4 linked regions of the Homo sapiens genome follow. The protein of the gene in region 1 purifies or fractionates together with the protein of each later gene. This does not show direct contact. Each region holds a gene or a part of one and is shown on either strand. Other genes may lie near its edges. The genes, in order: CSN2, CRYBB3, CCDC80 and PPP3R1.

The links.
Region 2: the proteins of CSN2 (region 1) and CRYBB3 purify together in Homo sapiens (co-immunoprecipitation; 2 studies listed by BioGRID and IntAct, with this or other methods). This does not show direct contact.
Region 3: the proteins of CSN2 (region 1) and CCDC80 purify together in Homo sapiens (co-immunoprecipitation; one large-scale study listed by IntAct). This does not show direct contact.
Region 4: the proteins of CSN2 (region 1) and PPP3R1 purify together in Homo sapiens (affinity purification with mass spectrometry; one large-scale study listed by BioGRID and IntAct). This does not show direct contact.

What each region holds. Positions count from the first base shown.
Region 1 is NC_000004.12:69,955,299-69,959,688, reverse strand, and holds part of CSN2 (beta-casein isoform 1 precursor), read left to right. Parts: intron 1-619; coding exon 620-640; intron 641-735; coding exon 736-780; intron 781-1,884; coding exon 1,885-2,415; intron 2,416-3,333; coding exon 3,334-3,339; 3' UTR 3,340-3,375; intron 3,376-4,096; 3' UTR 4,097-4,390. UniProt on the Homo sapiens protein: Important role in determination of the surface properties of the casein micelles.
Region 2 is NC_000022.11:25,202,663-25,206,053, forward strand, and holds part of CRYBB3 (beta-crystallin B3), read left to right. Parts: intron 1-11; coding exon 12-130; intron 131-1,100; coding exon 1,101-1,233; intron 1,234-2,557; coding exon 2,558-2,700; intron 2,701-3,391. UniProt on the Homo sapiens protein: Crystallins are the dominant structural components of the vertebrate eye lens.
Region 3 is NC_000003.12:112,623,767-112,628,156, forward strand, and holds part of CCDC80 (coiled-coil domain-containing protein 80 precursor), read right to left. Parts: intron 1-4,390. UniProt on the Homo sapiens protein: Promotes cell adhesion and matrix assembly.
Region 4 is NC_000002.12:68,178,880-68,183,269, forward strand, and holds part of PPP3R1 (calcineurin subunit B type 1), read right to left. Parts: intron 2,132-4,390; coding exon 2,084-2,131; 3' UTR 1-2,083. UniProt on the Homo sapiens protein: Regulatory subunit of calcineurin, a calcium-dependent, calmodulin stimulated protein phosphatase. Confers calcium sensitivity.

The sequences.
Region 1 (4,390 bases):
GCCAGTGATAGTTAAGAGCTTGCTAAGTAGTAGGTAGGCAGACGTGCAAAAAGGACACATTTTATAATTACAATAGCCACTTTAGTAAATAAGCGAGATTTAGTGTAGTCCTAAATTTACCTGAGAGAGTCAGGTAGATATTTATTCTTACACCACTCTTCTTGGGTGTGTGATCACTTGATAAGTAAATGGTACATCAATAGATTCTGTCTCTTCAGAAAGGTTATATGATCCTTAAGGGAAGTGTTTAACTCTTATGATTCATTTGAAGTGATCATAATGTATCAATTGTTATTAGAATATATTTTCAATGAGTATTTCTTTTTTTAAAAATCAGATGGGGTTTTAGATATCATTTGTTGTCAGGGAATGAGCATGGTGGTAGAGAGAAATTAGCATCTATTAATTGCTTTTTTTTGTACCATGTCCTTCTTGACTGCATTCATCTGACTTTCTTTTACATAACAAGCTCATATAGAACAGTTTAATACATAAGTTTAATGATTATACAAAGTTATTAATGATATTATCAAAGAATTAATGCCTTTATTTCCTGATTTATATTGCAAAGTAAGAATTGTTAAAACTAAACCTAATTTTATTTTATATTTTTCTGTAGGAATCTATTACAGAATACAAGGTAAATTTTCACATTTAAAATGTACACATTTTCAAAATTTCCTCCTTTTAATCTTTACAGATGGTAACATATCTTTATATATGATATATCTTTAGCAGAAAGTTGAGAAGGTTAAACATGAGGACCAGCAGCAAGGAGAGGTAATTTGTTAATGATAAGTATATGTTTAAAATTATTATAAAGTATAATACATACAAAAATATTTATAATGTGTATGTTGATTCTAAAGAATGATAATAAAATAAATGCCATATACCCACCAACCACTTTAAAAATTAAACATTGATAAAGTCAATATATTTTCTAGGATATGCATGCATTTTTAAACTCATAATTAATTTCTAGAATACAGACTAAATACATAATGATATTACTAATGGTATATCTGTTTTCAACAAGTACACATTGGTGGGAACATTTCCAGGTTGGGAACTATGATCCTCTTATTTCCAAGGTGGATATGGTAATGAAAAGGTGTATACGGCTGGTAAAAAAACCTATGTAAAATTTGTCCCATATTGCCTTTATTCCCATATGGACAACACAAAATCCTGTATTTCATTAAATTACATTTATGGTGATATGTTTACCCAATTATAATTTTCAATTGCTTTGTGTACCAATGAATTGTTTGGAGTCACATAAAATATTTCTAAAATCAAATTTAAACAAAAAAATTGATGTCTCTTGAAAGACTCAAGAGACTATCTTCTCCCAAGGGAAGGAATGTAAGAATTTGGCCGGTGTTAAATTACTTCCTGAGATTAGCCACAAATTAAGACTGATTTTCTTTTTCATCAAACCAAAACAAAACAAAAATAAACCTTGGAATTGTCCCTCTAAGTCTTTTTAAACTGATCTCTTTTCACTGTATGAAAACAATTTGGTCTACTATTGGCACAACTGTGTTGAAAAGTAAATTCTCTCTGAAGACCAAAGTGTACAGCTACAGCTATCCAGGCAATTCAGGAAAATGTTAAAAAAAGTGTTTCTGAAATATCCAAACATTGATTTCACTTTGGCCTGTGGAGTTACCCATGAAGTGAGTGGATTAAAATTTTTCAACAAACAGTTTACTCATTTTTCTTCGCATGACTCAAGATACTTTCTTAACCAAAATAAGTGAAATATTTTCTCCTCTCTTTTTACTCATTTATCATTGTCTAAAAGAGAGAAATGAATTCATTATGAATGGCAATTATAGCTTAATCAAGGACTCAAAGATTCTTTTTCCTTCTTTCCAGGATGAACACCAGGATAAAATCTACCCCTCTTTCCAGCCACAGCCTCTGATCTATCCATTCGTTGAACCTATCCCCTATGGTTTTCTTCCACAAAACATTCTGCCTCTTGCTCAGCCTGCTGTGGTGCTGCCTGTCCCTCAGCCTGAAATAATGGAAGTCCCTAAAGCTAAAGACACTGTCTACACTAAGGGCAGAGTGATGCCTGTCCTTAAATCTCCAACGATACCCTTTTTTGACCCTCAAATCCCAAAACTCACTGATCTTGAAAATCTGCATCTTCCTCTGCCTCTGCTCCAGCCCTTGATGCAGCAGGTCCCTCAGCCTATTCCTCAGACTCTTGCACTTCCCCCTCAGCCCCTGTGGTCTGTTCCTCAGCCCAAAGTCCTGCCTATCCCCCAGCAAGTGGTGCCCTACCCTCAGAGAGCTGTGCCTGTTCAAGCCCTTCTGCTCAACCAAGAACTTCTACTTAACCCCACCCACCAGATCTACCCTGTGACTCAGCCACTTGCCCCAGTTCATAACCCCATTAGTGTAAGTCCAAATTTACTGGCTTTGCTGTTTCATTCAAGATGTGTATGTGATGGTAGAATAAAAGAATAAATGTAGAGTAAATGAATTAAAAAAACAGTTTAGATAAGTGATTCTTTTATTATTATACTTTAAGTTTTAGGGTACATGTGCACAACATGCAGGTTAGTTACATATGTATACATGTGCCATGTTGGTGTGCTGCACCCATTAACTCGTCATTTAACATTAGGTATATCTCCTAATGCTATCCCTACCCCCTACCCCCACCCCACGACAGGTCCAGGTGTGTGATGTTCCCCTTCCTGTGTCCATGTGTTCTCATAGATAAGTGATTCTTAATGCTTACCTATACAATAGAATCACCTGGAGAACTTTTCCCCACAAATCCCAATGCCTAAGCTTACCCAGAGATTCTGATATAATTGTTCTAGTTTTTTGTGTAGAGGAAACTGAGTGTTGAGAAAAAAACTATTGCATGAATTCTGGTTTAATTAGTCTGTTGAGAATTCTGATTTAGATAAAGTAATTAAGGCTTACAAAAGCCGGAATTAAATTTAATAATATGATTGAATTTGGAAAAAAAAGCTAAAAAATGTTCTGTCATTTTCCTTGTGCACATCTCTTTTACACAAGCCTTACTTCACATCTTGTTTTTGCTATAAGTATATATGAAGGCAAAAGACTGAGATGCTTATTTCACTACTTACAACATTCTTAAGGCAAGTTTTCTTACTAAGAGGTTATTTATTTATTTATTTATTTATTTATTTTACACAAGCCTTACTTCACATCTGGTTTTTGCTGTAAATATATATGAAGGCAAAAGACGGAGATGCTTATTTCACTACTTACAACATTCTTAAGGCAAGTTTTCTTACTAAGAGGTTATTTATTTATTTGTATCTGTTTATTTTTAAGGTCTAAGAAGATTTCAAAGTTAATTTTCCCTCCTTATTTTTGGTAAGTTTTGGGAGTTTGGAGATTTAATTGATCATTTTTATACATGATGTCTTTTTACATTTAATTCTCCTAGAGAAGTCCAATACAGTGAAAATTTCATACATACAAGAACTTTTTTTATTAATTATCAATTTAATGGTTGACTATCATTTACTGACCTGAAACTATCTATCTTTTGCATTTCAAATAACTTTAATTTTATTTATGTACTATTGACAGATTTGACTGGCTTGCTTTCAAGGGCCTATATACTTACATTTGATTATCACTATTTTTAGGAAAGACAGAATATATACTTATTTTACTTTTATGGAAATACATTTGAGCTTTTGTCAAAAGCCTATTTGCATTTTTATTTCTAACCTAGCCTTCATAAAATTTGTATTTACTTTACTTAAAATTATCTTTTAATTCATGAGTTAAAATTACTCCAAGTGTAAAGGTTAAAAAGAGGAGAGAACAGCATTGCAATTCTAAGATATAAAGCCTTTTGGGATTATGAAATACCAGACATTTCACTGAAACAATTTCAAGTTCACTAATATTTGATGAACTTTGGTGAAGTTTGGTGAACAAACTTTACATGCCTCCAAACCGCAACAGAATGCATTTGCAATACAATTTCTTTTGTGAATTAGTCACACCAAAGTTAAAAGTGAAGAGAGTTGAATAGTTACGTGTTATAACATAACTAATTATATATTTGCTCTCTATTCCACAGAATTGACTGAGACTGGAAATATGATGCCTTTTCCGTCTTTGTATCACGTTACCCCAAATTAAGTATGTTTGAATGAGTTTATATGGAAAAAATGAACTTTGTCCCTTTATTTATTTTATATATTATGTCATTCATTTAATTTGAAATTTGACTCATGAACTATTTACATTTTCCAAATCTTAATTCAACTAGTACCACAGAAGTTCAATACTCATTTGGAAATGCTACAAACATATCAAACATATGTATACAAATTGTTTCTGGAATTGTGCTTATTTTTATTTCTTTAAGAAT
Region 2 (3,391 bases), on another chromosome or scaffold:
TGCTCTTCTAGGTGATCTTGTACGAACTAGAGAACTTCCAAGGCAAACGCTGCGAGCTCTCGGCCGAGTGCCCCAGCCTGACCGACAGCCTGCTGGAGAAGGTGGGCTCCATCCAAGTGGAGTCCGGGCCGTGAGTACCTAGACCCCCAGTCCCTCGCCACAGCCCTGAGCCTTCTGGGAGTGTGGAGGCCCCAGTCTGAGCTCTAGATCTGTTGTGGGGCTTTTGACAGCTCCCCTGCCTTCTCTGGCCTCGTTTTCCGCATCTGTAAAATGAGAGTTGAAGAATTCTCTAGAATCCTAGATGTCTGCAGAAAATCCCAGGATACCTGAGGTTGGAAGAACAGCAAGGTCAACCTAGCACCTAACTCAGTGACTGGAACATGGGATTTAATATTTATAATTTTAATAATAATTGTAACACCTAAAATTTAACATGCATTATGTCATTGAATCGTCATGACCCTGTGACAGAGGTATCATTCTTATTCCCACTTTATAGATGGGGAAACTGAGGCCAAAGTTGGTAAGTGTCCCATCCATGTCCACAAGGCAGGCAGGTCTCCCAGCTGGGCCCTGAATTCCCGCCTTTGGATTGCAAGTCCAGGCTCTGGCACTAACCATCTGGGTGATCTTCGGCAAGTTGCTTCACACACCAGGCCTCTGTTTTCTCATCTGTTGAATGGGGATAACAATGGTACGTACTTCAGAGAGAGTTTTTATGAAAATGAATGGAATGATGCAAATAAATACATATTAATAACAATACAATACAAAGAAGAGGAAAAGGAAGAGGAAGAAGTCACTGTCACCTATGGAATACTTACTGTGTACCGGGCATTGTGCTAAAGACTTTTCTGGGTACCTTGCACAGAGGCTAGATTCTCAATAACATACCCTAGGATGGTTTTCTGGCCCAGAGTCTCAGACAGTTCCCGGTATGTCCTAGCAGCTCCTTTAATTACAGGTCCAGGAATTAGCAGTAGGGTTGGAGGGAGGGTACAAGGTTCAAGGTCAGCAGCTCTTGGACACTTCTCTCACTAAACTTGAATCCTTCCTCAGCTGCAGCAAAGGTGACCCAGCCAAGCCTCTTCCTCCCTCAGGTGGCTGGCATTTGAGTCCAGGGCCTTCCGCGGGGAGCAGTTTGTTCTGGAGAAGGGGGATTATCCTCGCTGGGATGCCTGGTCCAACAGCCGTGATAGTGACAGCCTTCTGTCCCTCCGGCCTCTGAATATTGTGAGTGTGGTTCCTGCTCACTTCTGGGTGTTCCTGGAAGCAGGGTGCACTGAGAGCTGGTCAGGCAGCTCATTGCACAAGCTGGGCTGAGGGTTTGGCCCATATGGACCTGGCCTGGGAAGGGCCCTCATGTTTCTGATTTGAACAATTGTGTGGGACAAGAAGTGGGATATTGAAGGGACATTCGGTTGGGGATTGAGACACCAGGACTCACATCTTGAATTAAACCAGCATAGCACTGGGACTTTTCTTTGTAACCGTACTAAAACGATGAGCCACATGGCCCAGTCTCAAATCAGTATTGTTATCAAAGAAATGCAGTCCAGGAAATAACTTCAGAAAGTAGCCAAAATACTTTAAGTTCTCCACTTGTGTTTTTCTAGCACCTGAAAGGGACACAGTCCACAGTGACACTTTTTATTTATTTGTTTATTTATTTATTTTTCGAGACAGACTCCTGCTCTGTCACCCATGCTGGAGTGCAGTCTTTCTCTCTCTCTCTTTTTAAACATTTTTATTTATGTATTTTTATTTCATTTTGAGTTGCAGTCTCGCTCTGTCACCCAGGCTGGAGTGCAGTGGCATGATCTCTGCTCACTGCAACCTCTGCCTCCTGGGTTCAAGTGATTCTCCTGCCTCAGCCTCCTGAGTAGCTGGGACTGAAGGCACATGCCACCACGCTGGGCTAATTTTTGTATTTTTAGTAGAGGTGGCGTTTTGCCATGTTGGCAAAGCTGGTCTTGAACTTCTGGCCTCAAGTGATCTGCCTGCCTCGGCCTCCCAAAGTACTGGGATTACAGGCCTGAGCCACCACGCCCGGCCCACAGTGACACTTTAAACACCACCCTTCTCCCTCCCCTGCTTCACTCACACCCCGCAGCTGCTCCAGCCCTTTCTCTTTGTCACATAACTGAGTCCTCCTTAGAGGGCAGTGGAAGAGGGGAAACTGGGAAGATTAAACCGGCATCTGGTTAGGAAAGAGGGAAAGCTCATATGTTGATACTTTTGATCTCTGTCCACCCTCTCCTGGCCTCAGTTTCTCTATCATTTAAATGATGGGATTGAACAAGATCTGGAAATTCCTTTTCAGTTTTATAATCTACGGCTCTAGGTTCCTAAATCAACCAGCTTTGGAGGAATCTCCCCGTCCCTCCTACAGTGAATTTGGGGGTGGAGGCATCTCCTGAGGCCCTTCCCTCCTGCAGCAGGTTTGGGGGTGGGTGTTATTTTGTGGTGACCTGTTGATTCTTTCCGGCATCTGGAGCCTCCTTGACCTCTGTTCTGGATATGGGAGCAGCCGCTCACCCCACGATATTGCCCTCAGGATAGTCCACATCACAAGCTGCATCTGTTTGAGAACCCAGCTTTCAGTGGCCGCAAGATGGAGATAGTGGATGATGACGTGCCCAGCCTGTGGGCTCATGGCTTCCAGGACCGTGTGGCGAGTGTCCGTGCCATCAACGGGACGTAAGGGACCCAACCCTCACCCTTGCCCCATCTTCTGGTCAGCCATGCCTCTGGCTCCAAACAGAATCAGTGCCCATAGTTTCTTATTATTTTATTTATTTATTTATTTATTTTTGAGACGGAGTCTTGCTCTGTCGCCCAGGCTGGAGTGCAGTGGCGCGATCTCAGCTCACTGCAAGCTCCGCCTCCCGGGTTCATGCCATTCTCCTGCCTCAGCCTCCCGAGTAGCTGGGACTACAGGCGCCCACGACCACGCCCGGCTAAGTTTTTGTATTTTTAGTAGAGACGGGGTTTCACCGTGTTAGCCAGGATGGTCTCAATCTCCTGACCTCATGATCTGCCCGCCTCGGCCTCCCAAAGTGCTGGGATTACAGGTGTGAGCCACGGCGCCCGGCCATCGGTGCCTATAGTTTCTTGCATGATTCATGTTCCCTGCACTCCTGTACTGTTGAGATTTCTAGGCAGCCTTGACTTAAAACAAGTAAAATCTGTTCTCTCCACCTGTTCCCATCTGAGTCCTTCCTGCTTTTTTAAACATCCCCACACCCTTGAACTGATTCTTGAAATGTTCTTCCCCCTCACAACTCTTGTTCTTCTTAACAAGGGGCCCAGGATGTATGCAGTTATTGAGATGTGACACAAGTTGTACAGAGGAGAGCAGGCTTATCACCTCCCTCTTTCTAGGCTTAAT
Region 3 (4,390 bases), on another chromosome or scaffold:
CCCTATTTTCGGTCTCTAGAAATGTGCCCTCTCTTCCTGGAATGCTGTCCACATGAGTACTTCTTATTGTCTCTGAAACCTGTCTTCACCTCACTTGTGCACTCAACATTTTGGCATTCTTCTGTAATAATGCTAATCACCTTGCATTGCAACCAGTTGTTTACATATCTGTCTTCCCCCTAGATATGAGTAATTCAACAATAGAGACTGAGTTTTGGTCACCTTTTACATCCTTTCAGGCTGGCACAGTTCCTAGCATACAACCCCAGCATTCAGTAAAGATTTGGTAATCACTAGAACTCTCCCATAAGAAAGATATATGAAAAAGACAGTAATAAGGTATAGATAAGGTGAGTGATTCTGGGACTGTGTAGAAAACCCACCATAAAACCTTCACACTTTCCTTTGATCTTGTGAACCCGCAACACAGTCTAATGTAATTTGAGAAAACACATTCATATATATTTTTTTCTAAAATTGGTTTTGCATGCATTAGGTCTTTTAAATAAAACATATTTGTAAGGCATTTAAAATATAACGATTCTTTTCAAGAAGTCAGTAGGGGCCAAAACTCTCTTGGTTGTGCTTTGCATAAGCCAGGAGGTAGATGCCAGCAGAAGCTAAATTGCTTTTATTCTCAAGAACATTGCCAGGAGTGCTGAGCAGTCCATGGCAGGTTATTTCAGTTAGGATAACCTTGGCCTCCAGCTTGGAACTTATTTCCTTTTGATTGGAAATGGATAAGTTTAAATTACTTTGCAATTGATCTGCTTACTCCCCTTTTACTCTATGAGTGGGTCATTTTCCTATCTACTACCCCACTGTGAGATGAGTGACCTGATTAAATTGATAGGTGGGACTACCCTGGCCATTCCTGATCACTTTTTCTCTAGAAAGAGCAACTTGTCTTATTAATAAAGAGTGTGTCCTGTCCAAGTGAATTGCTGTCCTACAGATTGACTCCATCAAATCTTAAAGTTATAAATATATTTGAAAAATATATTCAGAAATATTTAGTGACTTCACATGGTTTACATATAAAGTTTGAATACTTTATCTTGGTATTAGAAATCTAATTTCAGGTGCCAAACTACATTTCTAGCCCTCTCTTCACCTCTTATCCTCTACCTAGCCTTCTGCTCTAGATCAAACCTAATAGCAAATCAGAATCACCTGAGCAACATTTTAAAATATAGATTCCTGGACCTCATTCCTAAACAAATGAGTCATTATCTTGGAGTAGAAAGGGGAGGTGGGAGTCTGAATTTTTTTCCAATTTATATAGAGTACCTATGCATTGGGATGAAAAAGATGACAACGCAATAGAAAAATGGGCAAAGAACACTAAAAAGGAAATATAAATGCTCCCTAAGCATGAAAATGTGTTCAATCATACTCACAACATGAGAAATGCAAATCAATACTACCCTATACTGATACCATTTTTCACATATTACACTGGTCAAAAGCATCCAAAAGTTTGATTACACACATTAATTGGAGAGGTCTGGGGAAATAGACATATTTAAACATTGTTGTTGGAACTGCAACATGATTCAACTTGTGTGGAGAGAAATCAGGAAGTATCCACTCAGACTACATTTTCTATTTAGTCTAACAATCCTGTTTCTTAGACTGTATTGGAAAGATGCACACACAATTTCACAATTTAATCGTAACCTTGTTCATATATAGCTCTATGTATGTGTGATATATGTGTAAGAACAAAATATTGAAAATAGTCCAAGTGTCCATGGACAAAATGTTTAAACTATGAGAGAATCTCACAATTTTTTGATAAGAAATGGGGAAGATTGCTATATACTCATAAAGAAAGATCTCCTAGAAATATTTTAAGTGAAAAAAGCAAGGTGTGGAACAATATATATAATATGCTATATTTTGTATAAAAAGAAAAATATATAGGTATTTATTTGTATTTGTCTAAAAAAGTACTAAATGAATAAATAAGGAATTAACAAAAATGATTACCTGTGGGTGCAGGGAGTAGCAGGGTAAAGGGGTCAGGAAGGATACAAGACTTGTCTGTGTACACCTTTTTATATAGCTTTGACTTTGAAAATTTAAAAAAAGTATTTCTTTGAAAAATTAAACAAAAACAAAAATACCTTGATCTAGTCATTATTCTATCAAAAGAAAAAAAACCTACTCATTTTTCAAGGTCCCTCCATTAAATCAACCTACTTTTCAAAATTCTCTGATATTTTCAATACCTTATCTGATGACTACAATTGGAAGAGCCAATCCCTCCACTACATTCTTCAAACACTTGTTTTGTACATTTGACATATCAGGCACTTTTCCCCCTTGGAATGTCAGGGATTGGTCTTGACACTGATATGCTTGATGTTGGAGGCAGCAAGGGCAGTGGACTAAGAAGACTGAGTAGGTTAGGAGACAGGCTCTCTAGTCTCTAGGGCACAGAATGATTGATAAGTAAAGACTTATCAAAGCAGAGGGGGACACACAGCCACTGTGTGGAAGTCTGAGCACTCATCCTGCCTCTCCTCCCAGCTCAGTGTTGCAGGGTCTAGAGAAGGCAGCTGCCAGGCACTGTCACCACTGATGAAAGGAGAAGTTGGGGGAAAAGGGTCTATTTTTCAGGACTGCCCCAGAGGCAAAGCAGCATTTTTGAATTGTTGTGGATCCTGATGACTGAGGTTTCTCTAGAAAGAACAATTCTCTTCAACAGGATCAGACAGAAAGGGTATTTTAGACTGATTTGTATACTATCATTCTCATTTTGTTTATTTATTGATTTATTTATCTATTTATTTTGAGACAGAGTGTCACTTTGTCACCCAGGTTAGAGTGTACTGGCATAATCTTGGCTCACTGCAACCTCTGCCTCCCAGGTTCAAGAAATTCTCCTGCCTCAACCCCCCAAATAGCTGGAATTACAGGCATCTGCCACCATGCCCAGCTAATTTTTGTATTTTTAGTAGAGATGGGATTTCACCATATTGGCCAGGCTGTTCCCAAACTCCTGGCCTCAAGTGATCAGCCTACGTCGGCCTCCCAAAGTATTGGGATTACAAGCATGAGCCACTGCACCTGGCGTACCATTCTCATTTTAAAAATTGACTTATGAAGTCATTAGATAGTAAGAAATCAACATTTTCTCTCTCCTTGTTGCCATATTCCACCTCCATGAACTTTGCTACCTCTCTTGATTACCCTCAAACTCTCCTTTCTTTGAAAGAAGTTATCAAAAAACTTCCCTTGCCCTATTAAATGTCCTGTGTATTCTAGCTCTTAAAATTTGGTGATAAAATGCCAATGTTAAAATATTTTTCATCTCTAAATATTGCTAAGAAAGAAACATGCTTGCTGTGCATTTCCCCCCACTTCTTTTTTCATTCTGCAATGAAGTGCCTTTAGCCAGCAACTTTTTCCTATCTGACAAAATTTGTCTGTAATCCATTCACTAAACATACACACCCAACATTCCTATCCTAGACTGACATTTTAGATATCACTAACAAGAAAGAATGCCTTTATGTGTTAGGCCATTTTAAACCCCACATGCAATATACTCTGTGCTGACAAAACCAGATAGGCATTGGAATTTGCTCAAGCATAAATAACTTTATTTACATGAAAGCCTAAAATCTTAAGGTAAGTTTCTTGGCGTTTGTAGGTTCATCAGTGATGTCCAAATACTTTTAGCAAGATGGACCAGCTGGTGAGTACGGCCCACACTGTAGTTGGATGTGTGCCCCTGCTTTCAAGGCCCAGTAAAAGTCTGGAATAGTAGGCAGAGCTTGATTTATTTTTAAGGAAAAGTAAGGCCATCTGATAGATTTCCAGCTGAAAGTCAGTCAAGGCTGGAGTTTTTTGGTTCACTGAGCCCATGGCTCATGCCAATTCTTTTTATCCCATGGCCGACTCCCAGTCTTGGCTCACAGTGCTACAGCCTTTCCCATAAGGGTAAACTGGGACATGACACAAGGAAAGAGAGGCCTTCCAGGAATTAGATGAGAAACAAAATAAAAGATCTCCCACCCCAAAATCAGGTCCCGGCTACCATTCAGTGAGGAAAATGCCCAAATCATAATACCTGATTTCCAATAAGGCAGAAAAAAAAAAAAAAAAGACCCACAGCCCCTCTACAGTTCATATTCAATCCAGATGTCTAGAAAACAGTAGGATTATGCTAAAAATTTGCCAAGGCAGTACCAGATGCTTATAATGGGACCATATAGAAGTTGAGGTGGAAGATGTAATGATTTTTCCAAGCTTCTCTGAAATAAGGAATGAGAACACTTTGTGAAAGTGTTGGTAGGTAACACATTTGACACTGGGAACACCTGGTTTGTGAGGGCTTTCATCACTAGCCAGCACCAGTCTTTGTGCTGGATTGAATACT
Region 4 (4,390 bases), on another chromosome or scaffold:
TTATTCATACAGTATGAAGTTTTCTAAAGATCCCACAACATGACGTATCATGCAGAAGAAAAACTAAACATTCAACATAAACCATCCCCTCCCTTACCCACCCCCACACACAAACTAAAAAAAAAAAAAAAAAAAAAGAAAAAGAAAAAACCCTCATTCCCCGGTAAGGAAATAATGTTTACACTATTTTTCTGTAACGCCAGCCAAGATATGCACAAGCAAGAGAAATAGAAAGCATTTGCTAAAATATTTGTAACAAATACTTATGTACAAAAAATTCACAAAAGGCTAGTTCCCCCTTGAAGCAGAGCACATGGCAGTTGACACTGGAACAGTTCAAACCACTGGCTGGGATTATAAGCCATGCCACTGATCCAGAGGAAGAAAGTTACATGTAGTGGAGATTTTCAGTCTGAACATTAACATTTCCAAAGTTTGGCAACATTATCTTTTAAAATTATGCAAATTATGTAAACAAGAGGTACATTTTAAATTGATCTACATGCAAAACTCCATGTCATGCAAGGACACCAAGCACCGGGATTTTTCTCTCACAGACAGAGCCCATGATGTGCAGCACTCAGTTGAAGGAACAGCGATGGCAGGCAGGTGTGCTCAATTTCAGATTGATTCACCTTGATTCAACCTGCCCTTTTCCACTGATTTTAAAACCAGTTTTTATAGAGAAACTATAAAGGGAAAGACTACTGTCATACAAAGCTAACCAAAATGTTTTTCTTCCAGCTAACAGTACCTTTGCAGAAATGGGAAGGGATAAGATCAAACAGTAGAACATGATACACTACTTTTATATCACACAAATTTATTAAGTTATCCATTACCAATTATATGGGCAAATCAAGAAAAAAAAACCAGTATGCATGCTCTATCCCTCGTGGTAAAGAAATTTAAGTGGCATAAATTTGGATACAATTTTGCTCTTCTGTGGCATATAGATTAGCAAGATTTCTCACACTTAAACCACAAATATATGTGGGTGTTTAGATACATACATGCATATTAAATATCACCAGTTTTTTAGATTAGCTGCAAGTCTTTTGAAACAAGGGAATTCATGATTCAAACACAAGTTTAATGACAAATTATTTACCCATGTAATCAAACAAATGGATATCCCTTATAAGTAGTTACATGATCACTTCAGGTATTCTTCAGTAAGTGATACATACAATCAATCATGATTGCCTCAGACAGCTTCTGGCCTTTATGTATAAAATCACAACTAGCACTTAACGTTACTGAGGGACATTTAATAAATGCAATGGCTCCTAGTTACAAAGTAGCAGAATGAAGCAGCTATAAGCCCTGTGCAGTTACTATATGAACACAAGAACTAGCTCTTGGCAGTAGCAATGAACTAGACTTTCTCCTCAAGCAGAGGTGTATTAAAAGCTGCTCAGCAATGAGAAGTAGTCCCTGGATATATTCATAAGTATAAATAAAGTTACAGACTCCTTTGTTACAAAAATGTAATTAAGGTAAATAATAGGACGTTAACAAATGCTTTGTCAATCTCTCAAAGGAGAAAGCACAGGAAAAGGAAAATAGCTGGCCTAACACCCGGCTCAAATTGTACAGTCTTCTATCTATATATAAAACTGTGTGAAATAAAAGTAAGGATGTTTTATGTTCTGCTTGGCACTTTTGTACTCTATTGTTTTGTTTCTGAATCAAGTATATTAAATTAAAGCCAACCTACTACATATATAGAAAGCTACATATATCTATATATAAATATTTACATATGTATATATAGATACTTTCTTGTTATAAAAGATGAAGAAAAATAAATTAAAAAGCCAACCCCTTCCCTTTCTCCACCACATTGATATGCTCTTTTCATGTTGCTGTCCTTCAGACTTTAAAGTGCTACACTGAGTTATTGAGAGAATTACAGTTCAATAACACTTAGTTGGCTTCATGAGGCTCATGTTGGAAAATGTGGCTTCACAGAGAAAAATACTTCCATTTAAATACACAGAGAGCATTGCTGGACGTCTTGAGCAGATCTTCAGAGATGGAGAAGAAAGCAAAAGTGTTGGGTGGTACTCTCTGATAAGAGTCACACATCTACCACCATCTTTTTGTGGATATCTAGGCCACCTACAACCTGCAACAGACAGGAACAAATCAAGCTTCACAGTGTCTGAGAAACTCCTCATTCGTGGTCTAACTACTTCATCAAATTTTAAAAAATATTACTAGGGGGCTGGGCGTGGTGGCTCACACCTGTAATCCCAGCACTTTGGAAGGCCAAGGCAGGTGGATCACAAGGTCAGGAGATCGAGACCATCCTGGCTAACACACGGTGAAACCTTGTCTCTACTAAAAAAATACAAAAACTTAGCCGGGTGTGGTGGCGTGTGCCTCTAGTCCCAGCTACTGGGCAGGCTGATGCAGGAGAATCGCTTGAACCCGGGAGTTGGAGGCTGCAGTGAGCCTATATCGCGCCACTGCACTCCAGACTGGGCAACAGAGCGAGACTCCATCTCAAAAAAAAAAAAAAAAAATTACTTTAGCTATATTCAGAAGGTGAATTTAAAGACACACAAAAAACCAAAACAACAAAACTTGAGTGACCTCCAGTTAGAATTTTCATGGTTTCTTTCTCCTAGGATAACAGGCATTACTTTTTGGGTGTTCTTGTACAAGGGCCAGTCTTGCAGGCTACATGTAGTTTCTTTCACATTTTCCTTTTTTTTTTTTTTTCAAAACAACACTTCAGGTAAAAACGATTCTTAGTTCAAAGACAGACATAAACAGGCTATGGGCAGGATCTGGTTTGCTCTGTAGTTTGCTGGCCCCTACTTCAGTAGTTTAATATCACACGATAACCAGATATTATGACAAAAACTGTCCTCACAATCAAATATGCGTGTCACTCTCAGTCTGTTCTAGACAATTTAAAAAGTACCAAGTGAATAAACATGTCTGTATATTATTTTTCTGTAGAGTCAAATACATGTAGTCATACACATCTCAGTGAATACTGACATGGTAATGTGTAAGTGTAGTATCTGTATCATTTGGGGGGAATGTTTTATTACATTTAATCTACATAAAGAGAATGCATAGGTCATAAATGTCCACAGTTTGATGAATTTTCACAAAGTAAACACCCAATAACCAGCACCCAGATCTTCCAGTCACCAGACATCTCCCCTCCTCCAACCCCCCCCTCCCCCCACCACACACACACGACCAGTAGCTACTATTTTCTGTTTCTGTACATTTTATAAATGGAATCTCTTTCGTGTCTAGCTTCTCTCAATTTTATGCTTGTGAGATTAATCCATGTTGTTATGTGTATTTGTTATCTGTATTATTTTTAAATTCAAACTAAAAAAATAGTCCCTTTATTTGAAAACTAAAGCATAAAGTGCCAACGAATTCTACAACTCCTGCTGTGGGAAAAAAAGCAGTTTGTCACCCTGCCCTCATTCTCTATTTGCTTTTATGCAGTGGCAATAATTTAAAGTTTTCAGCTGACTTGCACTATTTACCTCCAGGTCTCTTAAGATTTTTAGCTTTCACATACTTCTCTTCCCTCTATCTCCTACCCTACACACTTCACAAACTCTGTACCATTCCAATGGCTTTATCTTTATTTTCATCAGAAATTCAGCATTTTTCAGCCAGGTGCGGTGTCTCACGCCTGTAATCCCAGCACTTTGGGAGGCTGAGGTGGGCAGATCACTTGAGGTCAGGAGTTCAAGACCGGCCTGACCAACATGGTGAAACCAGGTCTCTAATACTTAAAAAAAAAAAAAAAAAAGATTAGGCGGCATGACTCCAGCCTGGGCAACAAACTGAGGCAACACTCCCTCTCAAAAAAAAAAAAAAAATCAGCATTTTTCATTGTTATAACTATACAATACAGATAAACAGAACTATGTATTATGATTACTTTTTCTTTCCTGCACATTTGTTTGGTACACAGTTAATTCCTTTGCTGGGTGTTCTATGTAATTATAATTCAACCCCTAACTTTTGTTCTAAATACATTCAACTAAAAATATTATGTAATTCTATCAATTTTATTGTCTTGAAAGCACTCTTTGAGCCTTCCAACCTGCTGCACTCTAGACTTTTTGTCTCCAGGCCTGTCATCTCTGGCGCTCTTCATCATATTGGGGATCCTCCCTCTCACCATGCTGGACCCTCTGCTTCCTGGATCCTACACTCTCTACTTGTTTGATTTATGACCTTATTGCAGTGGGAGCACATCCTCCAGTAGTTTCCAAAATGAGAAGGCCTTACATACCTAAAAGTGTCTTTCTACTACCATTTGAGTGTATAGAGAATTTTAAGTTGGAAATAACTGTCCCTCAGAATTGCACAGGCAAAATGCTCCATGTTCTTGTGGGTT